4 separate regions of the Homo sapiens genome follow, and regions 1, 3 and 4 are each linked to region 2. Evidence: fine-mapped expression QTL. A gene starts in region 2. Each other region holds a variant in brackets. All regions are shown on one strand. Distances are between the middles of the regions.

The links. PIP is the estimated chance that this variant, and not a neighbour inherited with it, causes the effect. A credible set is the group of variants that fine-mapping cannot tell apart.
Region 1: its variant is the best candidate, but not a certain one, in a credible set for the expression of CLEC2B in fibroblasts (GTEx, PIP 0.76).
Region 3: its variant is the best candidate, but not a certain one, in a credible set for the expression of CLEC2B in subcutaneous fat (GTEx, PIP 0.77).
Region 4: its variant is the best candidate, but not a certain one, in a credible set for the expression of CLEC2B in whole blood (TOPMed, PIP 0.86).

What each region holds. Positions count from the first base shown.
Region 1 is chr12:9,908,463-9,913,624 of GRCh38, forward strand. CLEC2A (C-type lectin domain family 2 member A) reads right to left here. Exons shown (of 5, transcript NM_001130711.2): 5 at 4,765-5,162. The coding sequence ends at 5,104. Among named protein-coding and RNA genes, the nearest start is that of CLEC2A, 21 kb to the right of the region's middle. RefSeq lists an enhancer at 1,708-2,907. The variant A/G (reference allele first, on the strand shown) is at 2,956.
Region 2 is chr12:9,866,688-9,871,849 of GRCh38, forward strand. It overlaps CLEC2B (C-type lectin domain family 2 member B), which reads right to left and starts at 2,667. Exons shown (of 5, transcript NM_005127.3): 1 at 2,518-2,667.
Region 3 is chr12:9,242,004-9,247,165 of GRCh38, forward strand. LINC00987 (long intergenic non-protein coding RNA 987) reads left to right here. Exons shown (of 7, transcript NR_137434.2): 3 at 4,466-4,545. It also overlaps the pseudogene A2MP1. Among named protein-coding and RNA genes, the nearest start is that of LINC00987, 4.5 kb to the left of the region's middle. RefSeq lists silencers at 3,022-3,071, 3,082-3,131. The variant C/T (reference allele first, on the strand shown) is at 2,380.
Region 4 is chr12:9,938,323-9,943,447 of GRCh38, forward strand. It overlaps LINC02470 (long intergenic non-protein coding RNA 2470), which reads right to left. Exons shown (of 5, transcript NR_104634.2): 1 at 4,808-5,125; 2 at 4,167-4,250; 3 at 1,587-1,771; 4 at 741-848. Among named protein-coding and RNA genes, the nearest start is that of LINC02470, 2.6 kb to the right of the region's middle. The variant G/T (reference allele first, on the strand shown) is at 2,686.

The DNA.
Region 1 (5,162 bases), 42 kb after region 2:
CAGAAAGTTCTGAGGAGCAGGTGATATCAGATGGAGGGAAACAGAGGAGCGGGCTGCTCCTGAATCTACTAAAAACGTTATGAGTTCATATTTGGGTCCCACCTCTAAGTTTATCAAGGGCTCTTGGTGGGACTTGAGATAAAAGAGACAGAGCCCCTGGCCCCCCCTATTCTTCCTCAAAAGTCATGAGTGGAAGGACTTCTTTTTATTTTTCCCATGCGGGACATTCCCTCTTAAAGAGACCTGTTCTTCCACATTTAAAACATCTATTCTGTCTTTTCTCTGTTTTGGGATTCTTTGGCTTGGCCCCCCTGTGTTCTTTATAGGGTCTGGCAAATGAGGTCCCGGATCCTTTAATAGGGGGCTTGAAGCCTCTAAATGGAGGTTTGGGTCATTTATAGATTTTGGCCCCCTGGGGGCTTTGTTTAGAAATGTATTGATTTGGAGCCCCCTGTTGATAGGTGGATAGCATGAATTTTGCTTTCACTTTTTGCTTTTCTTCGTATCTTCTCACATATACCTTTTGAGTTTCTCTGAGAAATTCACTTAGAGGATGATCTTTCCAATCCTCTATCTTTTGTAATTTCTTGGAAATGTCTGCCCAACTATTAGTAAAAAAATGAAGCTTTAACATTCCTTGTCCTAGGGGATCTTATAAATCTAGGCCTGCTTATTTTTTCATTTGCTCCTTTAATCTGTTTAAGAATTCTATAGGCTCTTCATCCTTCCCCTGTTGTGTGCTGAGTGTCTGAGACAGAGTCTGAGTCCAGGGTACTTATTCTTGAGTTCTTTTTATCATCATCTCCCTCAGGTCTTGCAGGTTTTTCCAGTGAGCTATGTTGTTATTGTCCCACCAGGGATCTTGGGCACGGAATTCCTCGTCTGCTGTAGAAACGTTTTAACTGGGGGGTGTTCATGTTCTCAAACTACCATAGTGGCCCTAAGGATCATGCCCCTTTCTCTCCCTGAAAACAGGATGCCCAGGATGGGCATTAACTCAGCCCAAGTATATAACTGGGGTCCTAGAAATTGATCACCGACCTGATCTGCCACTCGATGAGGGTCATCTCACAGCGGCTTGAGTTCTTTTTTAAAGCCTGGAACTTCTGAACTGGTTAGAGGAGCATTTATGAAGCTGATGGCACCCCCTCCCTGCAGCACCTCTTTTAAGGGGCAGAGAGTCAGAGCTGATTCCCCAGGGATAGGGGATAAAGGGAAGTTTTGAATATCCTTTTTACATTGCTCTACCTCACGTTGGAGTCCTTTTAGAGAAGAGTATTTAGGCTGGTAAGGAGCTGGCTCATGGGATGATAATTCCCAAGAATTGGGGTTGTAAGGGGTGGGGAACAATGTGAGCAGGGGAGGGATCTGGAGTGGGGTCTGAGGTGGCAACAGCTGCTTGAGGGGGAGAATTGGGGGTATTGAGTGGAGGAAGATGGTCTAGGGGATCCCATGTGTTGATGGGCTGTCTAGGAATAGGGACCTTTTCTCTTTCAGAGCAGTAAGATTCTAGCTTGCTCCCTCTGATTTTTAGAGGGTAAAGGAGGACAGGTCCTTGCCTCCAACAAAGAGCATACTCTATATCCTCCAGAGACACAGGGCTTTTGTCATTAATATGTTCCATTAAAAGTTAACAAATCCATTCTTCACTGGACCCAAATTTTGGCCAGAAAATTGAGGGTTTGAGGATTGGCTCTCGAGCCCAAATGAAGCAAAAATACTTTATCATTTGCTGCTTTCTTTTATGTTTGGTTCTTTTATTATCTTACCAATATTTTAGCATAATCCCTAGGCAACTATCAGGAGGAATTTCATCATCTGCCTGGCTCTTTATTTTCCCTGTCTTATTTGAAACATTTCCCATCTTGGAGGTTTGGTATGGTGTCTAACTGGAGCAGGCTTTTTCCCTGGAGTTTTCAACCTCCCCTCTATTGGAGGTTTCTAATGCTTCTGGGTGTGTGGGGGCTCAACCTCTCCTACTAGAGATTTCTTGCCCTCCCTTCTTCTAGAAGCTGTGTGTGAGTCTCAATCTCTCCTACTAGAGATTTCTTGCCTTTCTTCTCCTAGAAGCTTAGCTCCCCTTTTACTGGATGTTTCTTGCAATCTTCTCCTTTTGTTTTGTACTCACTCAGCACAGTAGTAGTGCTCGTTACCATTCACACACTTTCAACCTCCAAGATATCCCGACCTCCAAGGAAATACTTTATTGCCCCTGCAACATTTCTTACCTTGTCCTGTGCATAGAGTTACCTGGTTGCCGTGGTAGGTAGGTAAGAATCCTTTCCACCCACGTTGCTGAGAGTGTGGGTTTATTCGTCATGCTGGGGGAGGTCCTGATCCCTTTCCCTCTGAGGCCAACGCAACGAGAGAGTGTGACGCATCTCCTCATGGGAGATGATCTGGGACCCTTCCCCAGAGGAGAAAGGGTATCCCTGATGAGCCCCTATGATTGTTAGAAACAAGTGCTCTGTGCTGCAAAGAAGAACCAGCACTGAGACAAAGGATTTCTCAGCAAGGCAATTTACTTCTGCAGAAGGGTGCTGCCTGCATCAGCCATGCAGCACACTGAACAAAGGAGGGTAAGAGTTTTTATTCCTAACACGGTCCCTGCTTCTGTGTAGTTCCCCATTGGCTGGAGTCAAGACCACACAACCTAAACTAGTCCTGATTGGCTAAACACTTAAACCTTCTATGTAAGGTAGATGAGTGATGGGGGAGAAGGAGGGAAGAGAAGAGGGCCACCTGTGGAGAATAAGGCTAAACTTTTTCCAAATAAGGAAAGGAATGTAGAGTGAGGCTGACATGTCTAGGCATGTCAGGGCACAGCAAGAGCAGGAGGGCTGTTTGCAGGCTAGAAAGAAGAGAGTACAAGAAGGTTGAGCCTCTGAGCAAAGAACAAGGACATTGCACAATTAAGCCCTTTGAAGAGGAATTTATCCTCTCTGGCATGAATTA[A/G]TGGTGTGATTAGTTCCATATGTTGCCAGACCTTACCAGTTGTGAAGCCAGCAAGTCCAAGAATTCTCAAAACCCCAAAAGTAGTTTATAACCTTAAAACATTTAGCAAACCTTGACTCCAACCTGCATAATTTAGCTCACCTATTTACATTTTAGTGACACCTGCATTTTACCAATAATTTTTAAGGCTGTTTTTATTTCTCAAAGATTAAAGTCATGTGAACTGAAAGTACCACAGCTTTTATCTTCCCCTTAAAAAAATACTTGATCCAAGCACTTTTCTTTAGGACAAATTAATTAGAGCTCTTTTTGTAAACATCACACACAGTATACACACAGACAGGCAGAAGAAAACCCAGTCCCTGGGCCCATTTTTTTTAAGAGACAGGGCTAGGAGAACATGTAGATATCTAACCTGATAGGGTTAGATATCTCATCACCTAAGGCAGGGCTGCTAAACAAAGCCTTGTCATGCAGTTACTGGCCATGCCCCCAGGATGTAAAGCAAGATGGAGGCCTGCAACACAAACCATACAGACATGCAAAGCACACCAGATTGGCTATAGCCCAAGACTAGCCCCACAAATCCTTTTTCACAACAAAAACTTTAGAGAGTACAAACAGTGATAGTTGGGGGGCCTGGCCTTGTAAAAATGTCCTCTAAAAGGAAAAAAAAATGTAAAGGTTAACTGCTGATGGGGTAGAAGAAGGGGATAAAAAAATCAGTTTAAAATGCCTGGGGAAGAACCTCTTATTCTTATGAAAGTGGATGCTCCACCAGGGGAAAAGCTTAATTTTCATCCAATAAAGCTGAAGCCCTTGGGTGGGGAAGGGGAAGGCTGTGGTGGCTTATGGCTGGGAGCCAGCCAGCTGGCTCTGCAGGACCCTTAGGCCGTGAGTCCCAACCCCTGCATGGAGGGGAGGCAGAGTGAGGAGACCCCACTTGCCTGTCCCTCTTGAAAAAGGAAGAAAATGGCCTTTCCCCTGACCCTTAGAGTGACAGGGTTTGGGGGCATGTTTCCCCCACCCTCAGAAGCTGGAGGATGAAAATAGGAGCGACAGTGAGAGGTTTCGAGTCCTCATTTCATTCGCCTCTTCTCGAGCACCCATGTTATGTGCCAAAATTGTTGCAGGACTTTTCCTTAGTTCAGCTAAAGATGGTGTTCTTGTCCTGCCCATGTCCATAAAAATCTATGCTCACAGATGTTTTAGAGGATGAGTAAATCTGGGTTTTATTGGGTGAAAAGCAAAAAAAAAAAAAAGGAAAACAGGATGCTCTGCTAGAGCACTTCCTGCTGACCATTCTAATCTCAGGTTCCACACAGGAAGAGGAGGGACCGTGCTCGCTCTTCTTTGCTGCAAAAGTTGTGAACTTCCCAAGGCTCCACCTCAGTGGGCAGACTGGTGGGAGTTTCTCCCGGGCACTGCTTCCCACCTGCCTGTCTCATTTTCACACTGTAATCAAGATACTTTTTTTTCTCTAGTTTTTCTTACTATCTATCCATTTATACTCACATTCCTACTTGTTCTGAAAGATCACAGTTACCCAGGCAGGTAATTAAAACTGCACTAATGCAACAAGGCAGCTTTGATACAACCTTTGAATGCCCTATAGAATTTAAATTTTATGAAGCATCCAAATATGTGCCCCAAATTAATTTTCTTTCCTTTTTCTTACTTGGGAGATTGCATTTTTTTTTTCACGAACCTACTATTTGGTCACTTTGATATTTATTACTCTAGTCTATATAGTATGTTATAATTTTTATGTATAACTCATAATTTATCAGTGTTTATTATTTGTAGATGCTATGTTCTGAGTATTTGGGTCCTCCCAAAACTCATAAATTGAAAGCTAATCACCAGTGTGATGGTATTAGGGGATGGAGCCATCCATCAGGAGGTGATTAGTTCATGAGGATGGAGCCATAGTAAATGTGATTGTGCCCTTATAAAAGGCTCCAGAGAACGGCCTTGTCTCTTTAACCATGGCAGGGCACAGCAAGAAGTTTCCATCTATAAACTAGAAAATGGGCCCTCACCAGAGGTTCCGTATTCTGTAACAGAATAAGTGAGAAAGCCACTTTTGCATAATTAGCTCTTCTTTCAATCTTGAAGTGTGATAATCATTTTCAAGTTTTTTCTGCTCTATAAAAAATATTTAGGTTTGCTGCAAATCCACTTGATATCAATAAATCCTCTGGAAC
Region 2 (5,162 bases):
AGTCAGACCATTTTGATATTCTTTCTTCCAGAATGACTGTTGAAAAGAAAACCCTAAGCTGCTTAAATCAATGGCCTTTTCAATTAAAAAAAAATCTAGCTTATTGAAGTAATGTTTCTGAAAATTGTGAAGGGATTTTAAAAAGAGGAAATAACTTCGAGCTAACAGGTAGAGAGAAGGGCAATGCACATCCTGACAATATGAGAAATGACAATTTGCAGATACAGCGGAAAATAGGAGCCCTTTCCATTGCAAAGTTGGCAAGGTATTAGAGTATAAGGACTTGGTGGTGTATACAGAGTTGGTAGATTTTACGTACAGATGACCCCAGCTTCAAAAAAGATGATCGTACTTTAAATGTGGCAAAGAAACAGTGTGGCTTTTGTTATGAGTTCAGCACAAAATAGCAGAGCTAGACCCGAAGAGGTCATTTATATTGGAACATGGTCTTCTCAGGTGTAATCAGTGGAAACTGATGAATGGAGACCATTATAACACTTTGGTGTCTTATACAACCTGGGAAACTTCATATAACCTTGGAAGAAATCTCTCACTCTCAATACCACCAAATGACAGAAAGTAAGTAAACTGTCCTGTCCATTCAGTGGGATGGAGACTTGAAGTAACATTTAATTTTATTTAAATAACTAATGAATTCAACATTTATTGCATGTCTGAATATGTAGGTACAAATTTAAACCTATTATGTGTTCATTCTCTACTTAATCTATATCGTGAACCCTGAAATCTAGCTTTTTACACTCAGCATAAGTTGTTTTCAGTTGTTTTTAATTTCCCAGAATCTTTTCATTGTTACTGAATTCTCAATACTTATTTAGGAGGCTGTAATTATTTACATGAGTTATCAGAAAAATTAGTGGCATTGGTAGAATGTGGTTAGCATAGCTGCCTTTCAAACAAATTAAAAAATTGTGATCTCCCACGATGAAGCTGATATCGAAACATGAATTTCAAAGTTGTTGAGCCTTCTTAACGTTTGATGAGGCTATGCTTAAAAGGACACTTCCCCAGACAGTTCGAGAACAATGGATTTAATTAACAGTGTAACTAAAATAGTTCTATATTTAAATGTATAATCTAAACAGTTAAGGACTGCAATTGTTTTCCCCATAGAAAAGTTTCAGTGACTCAACTGTTTTCTGTTTGATTCTGCTCTCTAAGGAAAGATAAGAAAGATGCAGAGTGACCAATGCATTTAAAATCAAACAGAATATTATTTTTCTTGGCTAATAGCTATAGAAAAAAATCATAAAATACTGATAAGCAGAGCAAATAAAATATTTGTTAAAATGTATATAAAAACTGACTGAATTATATCACACTGCCCTAAATTACCGCTATTAAAACGATGTTCATAATTTCAGATATATATGTATCTATAATATATACAATATTATACTGAATATATTATTCAGTAACTTTTAAAATATATTCATATGTAATATGATATATAATATTGTATTATATAATGTATTTATATACAAATGTATAAATTTATACAATTGATTGAAAGTAGAAAATAACACTGGTTTTACTAGTGGCTGGAAGGCCTTCTTAAAACTTTTGATTAAAATGATATTTTATGCTACCATCAAATATTGATCTCATTCCCCGCAAACCTGTTTTATCTAACTTTAGGCAGAATTATAAAACCGGTTAAAATACGGGAGGAAGGATAAAGTGTGCATTCTATTGTACCACAGCAATAATTTTTTTGACCGTAGCATACGCTGGTAGGTTGACATTTAGTTAAACGGGAAATGCTTAAAGCTCATCACAGTCCCTAAATCTCTAAATCATAGATCGTTGTATTGAATGCATTTAGTTTCAGCCTTTTCTCTTTCAAATATTTTGACATAAATAAACCCTGTTGAAATCTCAAAGATGTAGCTTGGATCTTATATATTCCGAACTTGCTATTTAATAAATCCAATGTTACCAGGTTGTTTCATAGTGTATTTTTTAGAACATTTTCTTTCCTTATCCTTCTTAGGGTTGGTAAAGACATCTCCATGGATATCGGAGTACTAGCAATTCCTTAGTAAGAGTAGGAAAGGGATATATTCTTTCCGTTAAGTACTCCTAAAGCCCGGAGTATCTTTACACCATCCAATAAAGCAATCTTTAAAAATATTAGAACTATTGGCTAAATTTATCATATTATGTATGCATTCTGAGAACTGTATGAGTATCTGGATCATATCTATCATCTTCTCAAGTATTTGTTTTATAAAATACTTAGTAAAAATGAAACTAAATCTTGAGCAGTTTTAAGTCATGGTTAATCCTTCTCCATTGTAATTCAAATAATGTAAAGTAAGTCTGAATTTATTAGGACAAAACAGTCATATGCAAATCTCAATCTTGTTATAAGAAGGAATTTTCTAGTTTCACAAAAGAAACCACAAAATTTAATTCTTTTCTCGAAGGCTTTAACATTCTGCATCACAATTTCAATAAATAACGGTCATTCTAAACAAACAAAAATGTTCTTACCGTGCTTCTTTTAATCAGCGTTTTGATTTTCTGCTAGCAGCTTTGTGTCATGTCTTGCAGAAACTCTCTTCAAAGTTGTAACTTTATTTAACTTTAATATAAAAATGTTACTCTTGTTTTTACAGCACAGCTCCAAACTAGAGGTATACCACTTTTGAAGAGTAACTCAAAGTATAAATAGCATTTTGCAAACTGGAAGTAACCATGTGACTATCTATTAGTCATACTGTTGTTTATTACAATTTTCTTCTCGTCAAAAAAGAAAGCTTGCCAAGGAGGAAGGAAGTTTGTGATATAACAATTTAAAGCTGAAGAATAAACACATATTTTCTTACTTTCTCAACTGGGATTCTCATCTGAACCACAGAACACGAAATTGCTCAAGTGGCTGTTTTTCTGATTCATCCAGGAGTGGTACTTAACCACGTATCCTTCCAGAACTGTAGGAGAGGCTGATACTAATTAATTCAACAGCATTCTTTAGGACATTACTGCTTTCTTATCCTGTGTTAAGAAAGATCACCTTAAAAGCGATAGAATCAAAGAAAAAGCAATGGTTTAAACTTTGGCTACTGAAAGAAAAACAAAAACTATTATCTCTCTCTCAAAGACAAATGCGTGCAAAGTCACACGTGTGGGTGTGAGCACACACACAAACACACACAAAGACACACAGAGGGAAAAAAGAAAACGAAAGTAACAAAGTGCCCAGAACGTTATCATCAGCATACAAGATGACACCATTATGCTTTTGCTAAGTTACCAGGCCACAATTTTGTCTTCAAATCTGCTCTAATCAGTTTCCCAGTGATTTTGTATTACCCCTCAACAAATATATTAGGGAGGAAACTGAGGAGAAGAAGCCAGTGTCCCGCAAGCGGCTTCGGGATTAACACTGCATTTGTTCTGAGAGAGAAACTTGAAGAGGAAAAGCAAATGAGAATAGAGAAGAAACTGTAGTACAAAGGAATTAAAACAAAGAAAATATGAAGAGAATAAGAAATACAGGTTTAATCATTTCTGGGCAGAAGGAAAGGACAGATAACAAAATTGCTCTTTTCATTTTTGGACAGAAAAAAAAGACAGAAAATTCATGAGGAAATGAATATATTCTACCTTTGTTGTTAACAAAAGATTGTATCCAAAGAACTATTAGAAAAGCATGTATAGAAAAATATAGAGATTACTCAAGTATGGTTGAGTGAAATTTAGTTTTGTTCCAAAAAGGAAAACAGTCAAGATACAACAGTTAAGATATAAAACATTTTCAACACAGGGAAATGTTCCCCGCTGTTGCTTTGCAGTTCATCCTCACCCCTGAAGCCAGGCAGCAGCCAACTTACTGTCAATAAACATGAGCTTTGCTGGTTTTAGAAATTCCTGTTAAGCAGAATGATACAGTTGGCAATTCTTGTAAGTCTGATGTCTTTCACTGAGCATAATGTTTTTGAGTTTTATCCATGTTTTTGCACAGATCAGCAGTTAATTTCTTTTTATTACTGAGTAGTATTTCATTGTACAGACATAAAATATTTTTATCTATTTTATAATAAAATGTATCCATTATGACATTGAGCTTTTTCCACTTCTTGGATATCATAAGGTCAAAATAAACATTTATGCAAAAGTTTTTCTATTGACACGTTTTTTAATCTTTTGAAGAAATACCTGGATGTGAAACTGCTAGGTTACATAGAAAATGTATGTTTTATTTTATAAATGTATTTTTTTCCAAAAAGTTGTGCCATTCCCAACATGAATATTGGATGGTTCTATTTGCTCCACATAAATAGCAATATTAGATATGCCCAATCTTTTTCAATTTAACCATTCTAGTAGGCGTGTAGTAGAATCTAAATGTGATTTTAATTTGTACATCTCTGATGTTATATTGAGCATTTACTCACGTGCGTATTGGTAACTCATATATCTTTTTTCAATGACCTATTTAAATATTTTTCCCATTTTTATGGATTTATTTGTTTCCTTATGGTGATTTTTAAGATTTTATATATATGTAAATATATATGTAGAGAAACATACACATAAAAATGTGTATATAAATAAGTAAAATGGGTTGCAACATAATATAGAAAAATTCCATTTTTAGATAAATGTATTAAAAATACTTTCCATCATTTGTATAGTGACTTTTCACAATTTTTTTTCTCAAAAATTTTAAAAATCTAGAAGCTTCTAAACGTTGGACTCTCTAATCCTAACAAAGTTACATGTTCTCCCTTGTCGAGGTCATGCCTTTTTCCTTAAAGAAAATATTGTGCCCTTCACACCCTCCTTACAGGAATCCCTCCCTTACTTGCCTTTCTTAGTTATTGGTCATAAGGCCAATAACTAAGGTTATGTGCTAAGCTTATAAGGGAGAGAAAGGGCTATACTCAGAATGAATTTGGACCTAACCAATATATAATAACAACAGCTTGGAGTGTACACAATGGGATTGGATTCTGAGGGTGCTAGATCATGAGAGAAACATAAAGCTGGATAAGGGAGATTTTATCAACATTAGGGCATTCAGTTGCAATACAGAATTTAATAACTTGGAAAAATACTGTGAACAGTGCTGACATACTGCTGAAATAACTCCAAGAAGATTGGAGAAAGCAATGGCTCACGCTGAGTAGAGT
Region 3 (5,162 bases), 620 kb before region 2:
GATAGGAGAGAGGCCAAACCCTGTGGTTCCAGACAAGCAGAATGCGCTGGCCTTCCACTCTGTGATGGTTTCAGGGACCTGGTCACCAGCTCACTTATACCTAATGAGCTAGTGAAGGAGCAGAGAAGAGGAGTATAAGCAAATCTTTTTTTTTTTTTTTTAACACAAAGCATGGCTGATCCTAGAACATGATAACTCAGTAACCTAGTGTGGTAAATGCTAAACTTGATCTAAGGGTTGGTGCTCCTGGTGAGGTTTAAAGTTTTTTTTCTCCCTACCTCCCTTACTCCCTCCTTCCCTCCCTCCCTTTATTTCTTCCTCTTTTCTTTCATTCTTTCCTTCCTTTTGTTCTTTCTTTCAATCTCCCTCCCCTCCCCTTCCCTTTCCTTTATTTAAGAGGGCTGGTAGCATCCTACTTTCTATTATCTTAGTTATCAATAGACTAAATTAGAAAAAAAATTAGCATTGTTTAATTATGAGATAAATGAACTATAAACCTAAATATTTACCAGAAAAGAGCAGAGCAGAACTAAAAGGATCAGGAATCCAGGATAACATCAGTCATACAGCAGGATTCAAACCCTCTCCTAAACTAAATTCCAGGCAACACACAACTTACTCAACTACCACCAAATCCCAGATCCAGGTCTCAGGGAAGTACTTCCGGACTATCTCTTTCACTTGCAATATCTGAGGTTCTTCTTCGATCATTGGGTACATTATTTCTACGGCTCCTGGGGGTACACCTCGCAGACCTGGTCCTGGAAGACAACACACAGGCCTCAGTGTGAACCTCATTTTTATCATCAATTTCTTATTGCTGCCTTATTTCTCAAATGGAATAAGGTCATACGCTCAGGGAATGTTTATTATTGGAACAATTTAACCTACCAGCTTGTTATTTTGTTCACTTTCCTATAAAAAGGCTAATCCTATTTTTTCTTCAAATAGAATCTAGAGCTAAATATATTTTTCTTTATAAATAAAAACAAATGACCTGTACATGTACCTCCTGAATCTAAAATAAAAGTTGATTAAAAAAAAACAAATGTAGCTCTCTCTAAGATGATTACTCAACTGGTGAAGGGAAGGATAAAGAGTAATTTAATACACCAAATATTGCTTTTACACTGAAATTGTGTTCACATGTCTTCTGTTTGCAGTGAGAATCAAACGAGGAATGGATATTAGCTAAGCAAGATGATTTCGGGAATGATTTTTTGTTTGTTTGTTTGTTTCGACATTGAATTAATATGGAGACATAAACAATAAGCAACAGGATTCAGTAAAGTATGTAGTATAGACAATAGGGAGTCAGGAATGAAAAGACAATCAACTTTAGTTAGGCCGGAAAAGACTTTACCAAAGCGGAACCTAAGATGATCATTCATGGATGGGAGGTGGAGGAGAATGGGGAGTTATTCCCAGGAAAGGACTGTGCAAATATATATACAAAGGTGGAAGGGTGCTTCACAGGGATAGTAAAAATTTACCCTCTAGAGTAGAATGGCTATTTTCAGGGTGTGTTTCCCATAATTAGGTAAACAGAAGGTATAATATATAATAAAACATAAGGCTAGGACAAATGAATAAGGTCTGTTAAGTGGGAGTTAGTTAGCTTGATAAAAAAGAAATTGATATTCCAGAAATCAGAAGATATACATATATATAAGATATATATAATCTTTACATATTGTTAACATTATCTTAAATATCTTTATTATAATATTATTCTATAATATATCTTCTGATCTCTGGGGCATCACTTTTTAAAGATAATTATATACGTGTGTAATTATAAATACATATATGATATATATATAAGATAATAGAGTTAGATGTGCTCTTTCAAAACCTTAAATGCAATAATCTTATGAATTCTGGAAGTATTGACTATGTTTGAGAAACAAGTGACATGAGAAAAGCAGTGTTTAAGAGTATGCAGGACAGATAGAGGTAAAGAAAAGCTGGAGGCAAGGAAGTTAAATTAGAATGGTTTTTCAGTAATCTAGTTATGAAATAATGACAGACAGATTAAAGTGCTGTAACTGAAAATGAGAAGGAAGAAAAGGATAAGCAACAAATACCAAAAGAAAAATTTGCATAGAATATTACAGAACATTTGGGGTCAAAGTGTAACGATGTACTCTGAGTTTTCAGGTTTTCTGAATCATACCTTTGTTTCCATTGATCTGTTTTCTCTTAGGTTGGAAAGAAAATACACACTTGGTGAAATGAAAGTCAATTAATCATGCTTTTCAGTTTCTTTTTTTTAAACAAACATGCCATTAAAGGAATCATGATTTTTTTTTTTTCATTTTATGGTCACAATACCTCAGTGAGTTTGGTGTTGTCATTCTGACTTCAGATTTAAAGAAA[C/T]TGAGCCTCTAAAAGGTTAAGTGAGTCTGCAAATTTCCAAAGTCACATAGTCATAGCAGATAGGAGTGTGATGAAAAATTGTCCCTTTGTTCTTAAAACAGTGTTCTTTTTTCACTATACAGGATTTTTTTTTTTTTTCTGGTGAGGAAATATCCTTAATGACTCCTTTGTTTTCAATTAGAACATTACTCCTTGCCTTCCCAGGCAGTGAATCTGCTGTATTAAAATGTGTTTATTCTTTTTTTTTTTTTAACACTTTTTACTGCCATCCTCATTTTTTATTAAAAAGTAAATTTGGTAGACATTCAAGCATGCAGAGAAAAATTTCTCTAGGCCTGATGGCAGTAGAAAAGAATTTTGAGTTAGGCCTTTTGCAACATTTCCTGATTTCCAGGTATACTTGAAACACACAAAGAGACTATGCAGAGGTAGCGTATCTGCCAAAAGTTGCATTACTCTCTTTTGCTCAATATTACATAAATCCCTTCTCTTTCCATAAGAAGATATGACAGAGACAGTTAATATCCACATGAGCCTTCCCATTTCTCAGCCTCCTTTGCATTCAGGGCAGGAACATGGGCGGAAGTGATGTATACCATTCCCACTCCTGGCTTTAAGAGTCAAGTGCAACCTCCTTCCCCATGGGTATGACCTTGAAAGCCACGTTGGCGATGGCAGAGTCACCAGAGGAAAGCAGACTGGTTCTCTCTGACTCACTGTTTGGCACGGGGCTGTTCTGGAGAGTGTCTGAACTCACAAGTAGATTTTGTGTGAGCAAAAACCAAACCGTTAGGTGCTTACCCGCTGAGATGTGGGAGTTTGTTTGTTACTGCCATTGAATCTAATTCTGACTAATTCAGGTATTGACTCCATCATGGACAAGGAAGATCTAAAATGGCAAGACTATTAAAAGCAAAAACAAAAAGTTAGTTGATTTTGATGTCAAAGAGAAAATAATAATTGCTTAAAAATCCTCTATTTGAGGAAAAAGTATTATTTGGGGCTAACTTACCAAGAAGTTGCTGCAGTCTCAAGATCCAATACTTAGAAAAACAGGTTTTCATCTTAAACCAACCCAATAAAGCACCATTTTTCTTCTATTCTGTCAGACAAATAAATCACACCTTTACCTCCTATTATGCTGATACGCAATCCTCGTGGTAGACACAAAGTTGGCTTATGGATTTTTGAGTTGGTAAAAATATCTAATCCTATGGACTGAAAAAAATTGTTAAAGCATAGCGGCAATCCAATCTTGAGACTGTAAGTAGTTTCTTGAATTTGTATTGTACTTTCACTATTATGTTACATATAGTTCATACGCTCATCATGAAAATTACACAAAATGAGGAGAGCTATTTATAAATATGAAAACAGAGTCATAGACGGTCAAGTTCATTAAGCTATTGAGTGAATAGGAGTGGGAATTCAAACCCGTTTCTGATTCTTATTTCTAAATATTGTCTGGTATAATCTAATGCTCTTTAACTCTTTTTTGCATCCATAAAACTGAATATTTTAGACTTAGATGTTTTCTTCTCTTCTTTTTCCCCATGAAACAAATATCTATGTCTGTGTATGCATATAAACAGCTCTCCTTATGGCTTTATTACAAAGAGCATTTTTTTGCTTGTTTCTTGTCATTTTAAATTGAAGGTTTGCATATCGGAGGTTGTTCTTTACAATCTTAGTAAACTCTGTTTTGTTTATGTTTTACCAGAAGATATGGCTTTTCCTGAATATCTATGCTTAACTCGTTCCTGTGGTCCTTTCCTCTTTTTTCTCAGTTTCTTCTAGTCGTCTCAAATGTCTGCATCTAAAACCCACATTCAGATGCCCACGGTTGTCTACAGTCCACCTGTTTCCAGCTTCCCCCTTCTTCAATGTTAGTCACAGATAAATATTATTTGCTATTTTATCTCAGAGTATTTGGGAAACTGTGGGACTCTTGAACACAGTTGTCAGTGAGGGTTGTGTACGCAACAGAAAGAAATAAACCAGAAATAAATATTTAGAGATTAAACAGCTGGTTAATAAACCAAGAAGTATTCTTTTCATCCTTCTACCATCTGATTTGTGATTCCAGAACGTCCAGAAGAGAGAGATTTAAATTGCTTTCAGCTAAGCTGTAGACCTCTAGCAGATGAACGACATATTTTCCTGAAGGTATGATGAAAGTTTTTAGTGCTTTTTGATAGTGATAAGATTTAATTTCACGACCTGGATAATTCTGCTCAGTTATAGTTAATACTAAAGAATTACATTTTTAAGACATCTTAACATTTCTAATACAAGTTTTGTTAATCTTTTCTTAATGAAAGACAACTTCAAATTTTCCTGGAATTTTACTGCCCTGTGAGGACTGAAGTTTTGCATTTTATGTATTCAATCCTGTATTCATTCAACAAGTGTTTTCTTTGTTTGTTTGTTTGTTTTGTTTTGTTTTGTTGTTTTTCTTTGAGACAGAGTCTCGCTCTGTCACCCAGGCTGGAGAGCAGTGGCGCAATCTCGGCTCACTGCAAGCTCCGCCTCCGGGGTTCACGCCATTCTCCTGCCTCAGCCTCCCGAGTAGCTGGGACTACAGGCGCCCGCCACCACACCCGGCTAATTTTTTTTATATTTTTAGTAGAGACGGGGTTTCACCTTGTTAGCCAGAATGGTCTCGATCTCCTGATCTCGTGATCCACCCACCTCAGCCTCCCAAAGTGCTGGGATTACAGGCGTGAGCCACCGCGCCCCGCCTCATTCAACAAGTGTTTATGGTGCAAATGACTGAGATGATG
Region 4 (5,125 bases), 72 kb after region 2:
GTTCCGCTACTAACTTTATTATATTATATACAACATGTAATATCTGGCATGGAGTGCTACAGAACCAGTATCTATTACAAAGTGGGCAGTCAATAAATGGTAGCTAGTGGTCACCTTTAGTTCACCAAAGAATACTGAGAACTCAATATCCTTTATATGACCTTCTCCACCCTGACGTTGGAGAAATTTGTAAGTGTTTTAAGAACAAAATAGATTCTAAGTGTATGATGAGTTTTTTCAAGCTATGGAATATAAAGAAGTTCTTGAATTTTAAACAAAGGTAAACTGAGGCAAACACGTTCTCTTCTTAACTTACTCTTGTGCATGTCAGGCCACTGGTGGGTGCGGAAAGTGTAGGCTTCAGTACACTCTCTAATGCTCTCCCATCAATGAAAGGCCAAAGGAACAACAACAAAAAAAACAAAAACAAAAGGCAAGGTCCCAGGTCCAAAGAGGAAAGGATCAAACTGCTTAGACTTGCATCCAGTTCAGGATAAAGGGAACACTTGTGACTCACATGTGGTATATACCAATTCCATATATATACATAAATATTGATATGTGATGCCAAACCCTCACTAAAAACCGTAACTTTGTCTAAATATTCTCTTTGGCATCTATTTTTTGAGGGTCTTTTGGGGGGATGATGTGGAGGAATCTATGGAGGAAGCCAGTTATAGACTCAGAATCTTTACCACGCTTTACACATTTAATAGTAAATACATGTTAGTAAGGCTTACCAATTGCTGAATGTAGCTCCATCTGCCCACATCCACGTTTTGTTTGCATTGTGCTTGCTCAGTTCAAACCAATATAAAGACGGCCCCAGATAATGCATCAAAGATTCCCTTTACAAAATACAGAGTGCTGTCATAGATTTCTTCTAGTTTTCTCATTCTCACTCCCTCCAGTGCCCTTTAAGTCTATTATTATCTTGCACAGTTACTGCAAAGGCCGTATAACATGATTCCCTCCGTTTACATTTGAGACTCAGTAGCCAACCTCATCACAGCAAAGATTATGATTCTTTTAAAACTTAAGTCAGATCCTATTACATTTTCCCTCATAATTTGGCAGTATCTCCCTATTTTGCTTGGAGCAAAAACTAAACTCTTTACAATAGCCTGCAAGACCCTAATGATCCGCATTCTTCACTCAATCCCTCATTTTAGATAGATTGACTGGCTGCTTCTTTTCTGTTCCTTGAATATTCCAGACATTCACTGGCCTTAAGACACACGCTCCAGCCATTTTCCTTTCCTGGAAAGTTCACTTCTAGATAGTCCCTTACCTGCTTCACATCCTTCCTAAAATGTCACCATCTTATTGGGATATAACCTTACCTGCAGTAAACCCACTCCCTTAATTTTCATTTTTTTGCATAAAACTTTCCAACTTCTAACACAATATATAAATTACATATTTAATAAGATAATTTTTCATTGCTTATCTCTTCCCCTAGCATGTAAACTCCACAAGGGCAAAGATCTTTGATTCTTTGGTTTGCTAATGTATTACACCCTAGGAGTGTGCCTGTCTTTTAGTAGCTATTAAATGAGTTTAATATTGCAAAGAAGAAATCTAACCATTTCATTCTGAGAGTTGAGCCTGGCCAGAGATCCATAACTTCTGCAGTTTTCTCAGCCATTGATCCACGTTGTTTCATGTTCAGATTGAAAGAAGCAATTATTATTGATTCAGTTCCAGCCTTGTGGACACATAGTCAAATTTTCTAGGCATGTCTTGTTTCTAAGGTGCCTTGGAATTCCAACTGAAATTAACAGGTAATAGAGAAAAAGAATAAAGAAAGTATCAAAGAAAGAAAGAGTGAGCTTCAGAGTAAAATATTATTATATAGCTCAGACTAATAAAATGTGTTTTACTTACATATTCAATTTGAATGACTTAACTTTAAACATCAATTCAAAAAAATTGAATATCGAGAAGAGAACATGAAAGGAATAAGCACTGGAGAATGAGAGCTATGAAAAATTTAAAAACTCAATAACAAACTTCCAGAAATTCAGTATCTTCCAGCCATTTTCCCTCCTAATTTTTAGACTACATGAATTTTCTTTATTCATCTATTTCTTTCCTAAAATTTACTATGCTCTCTAGAACAAGTTGCAGTGTAAATAAACAAATTTTTCTATATTCATAACTTCAGTGAGCTGGTTCCTATCATCAACTTAACTGAGACTATATTGTCTTTCAAAGACAGCATTTCTCTAGAAGGTGGCGCTGTTTCCTTGTCCGTTATGAAACAAGAAACACAGAAAAAAGAATGCTAAAATTTCCCTTTTTACTCTCCACTTTTACTCCTTAAGTTACTGCACTAGATAAAGGAAGTTCCTTGTTAAGGTATAATCCTGAAAGAAACAAGCTCTGAGAGCACCTCCTATCCACAACTAAAATAAATGACTGGTTCATCTTCAAATCTGTGAGTGGGAAAATCCTCAATGGGAAGGATCAACTGGCAATATGGTTCTATATAGTTGAGACCTGAGAGTGAAGTGAAAAAATCAAGTTATCAAAGTTATTTGAATGTGTCATGTTCAAAATTATTTTAAAATGTCAAATTCAAATCAATAACCAATATAAAAACCAAATACTTAATTCAAAACTTGGGTCACCAGAAAGGCAGTTTTCTCATTCATTTACTAATTAATTCATTCTTTCATTTAC[G/T]CAGTCAACAACTACCGATTGAGCACCTGCTACACGCCAGACATTTTTGTAACTCTATGAATAGCCTACATAACATACAGAAATACCTACTCTTATGGGACTTATGCGTCTGAAATTATATAGTTTGTCGTAAAATAGATCAGAGTGAAGGAGAATCAGGGAATCACGGTTGTTGGTAAAATGAGTAGAAAGCAAACCACAAGAATATGGCGTCATGTAAGTCAAATGAAATTTTTTTTTTTTTTTAGAAAAAGGGAGTGCCAAAAGCTGCAAATAGGTTATATAATAAGGTGAGGAGGGAGAATGGACCAGTCGATTTAGCAATATGGAAGTTATTGGTGAACTTGAAAGACAAGTTTGGTGGAAAAAGCAGAGTGGAAGCTTGATCCAAGTGGATTTAACAGAAAAAGGAAAGATAAAAAATTATTTTGAAAAGCCGTTTTAAAGAGGTTGCTGTACCAAGGAGAAAAACAATAAATTGGTTGCTAAAAGATAAGTGGGGTCTAATAAATTCTGTTGTTTTTGTTGTTTATTTTTTCAAGGTTGATATAGATACCAGTATGTCATATTTGCTGATGGAGATGTTTCAGTTGAGGATGAAAAAAGGATAATGTAGGAGAGTGGAGAATTACTAGGGTGATATTACTGATCCAGTGAAAGAATATAGGATCTATTGTAGAACATGAATACTGCATCTACAGTTCCAGGAGTCTAGGCAGAGTGTAGGGGCAGAGATGGAGTAAGTAAGCTGGTGTGGTGATGGGAGCATTTGGAAGTTTCCTACAAATTGTTAAAATTAGAACAAGTTGGAAGCAAGGGTATAGACATGAGAATGAGCATGAGGAGAATGGAGATGAAGGACAAGGTATAAATTGCTAATGAATGGCAGTGAAAGAGTTAATGCACTAGGGAACTATAATACAATTGCCAGTCCCTCACCCTACTTCTTTGTAACTCCATCATAATTATACCTGGTGTGATTCTCTGACATGTGTGTTCTAAGATGATCTTTGATAAACGCCTACTTGAGTTTAAGATTCAGCACAAATATTTCTCCCTTCATTAAAGCCTTGACTACAAGCAGCTAACTTATAATCTCCTCTCCTGCTTCAAATTCAACATAGTTCTATTTAGTAATTATTTCTTTTGTGTTACAGTTGTTTGCTTACATGCTTCCATATTCAGTTAAAGATAAACTACTTTCAGGCAAGAAATACCATTTTTTTTCATTGTTATATCATCAGCAGGCAGCACTGTGCCTAAAGCTTGATACATATTTATTGAAAGACTGATTATTCTAGAAGGTGAAGCAGGTGACTAAGTTTGAAGAGCAATTAGATGCACTGTCTTGGAAAATGCTTTTATCTCTAAATTGTTCTATATTAAGGAAGGAAAGACTAGTTATTGGTATCCAACTGAATCAATAATACAATAATTTTAACAATTTAATTTAATAATTTTAGCAGAAATTGTTTACTTACATTTTCTGGGAAATCTTAAAATCCCCCAAAGAAGAAAAGCAATGCCTCCACATATAAAAATTGAGATGATCATTATTTTCCTTTCTATTATACCAAAGAGAAACAGATGTCATTGTTTATGTTCCAGAGAGAAAAAAAGCAAGCAAACCAACAAAAAACCCATCATGTTTATCTCTTTTCTCTATCTTCCGCGTGTTCTACTGTTCACAATTCAGCAATTAATGTATTAGAAAAATAAGAAAGGGAACTAAGACCTAACGTTTGAACATCAGGAGCCTCGAAGGTGCTTTGGCTCCACTTTCCTGTGCTATTTGGCAGAACTGTGTTACTAATTCTTCTGCCCTGCTTCCAGAACAGAAAACCAACAGTTTCCTCGCAGCGTCTTTTAATAAAATACTGCCTTTTCCAAGGGAAAATTCCAAGTATTTTTAATGAAATACTGTCTTTTCCAATATGATGGAGGAGGCTGGAATCGCCAATTATCATTATTATTGAAGTCTTTGTTTTATTAATGAAAACTGCTTTTACTTAAGATCTATATTATGGTCGCTATCCCCTACCCTGCCCTTCCCTCCCAATGCTAAAAGGGTGCAAGCTAGGATCAAGAAAAGATGCTAGAATAATCACACAACCTCACCCACCTGGCGTGTTGGTCTGCTGCTCCACAACCTCCGTCCCATCCTTACTCTCCATCCCTTCTCCCTCCATCTCCAACCCTCACGAGGAAGGCTCATCCTTCTGTGTGTGATCACAGAGGCTGGAATAATCCTGCGGGTGAATTGCAAATTGCTAAGTATATTTGGTGAGTGCAAACCGCAGGAAACTGACGACCCGGTTTTTCTGAGGGGTGGTGCGGCAGCAAGACAGTAGGAGAAACAGCACAGCAACCTAGCATCCTCCACTCAGCCGCGCAGGTGGACTTGGGCCAGATGGCCCCCAGGGGCGTGTCATGTGCCTTC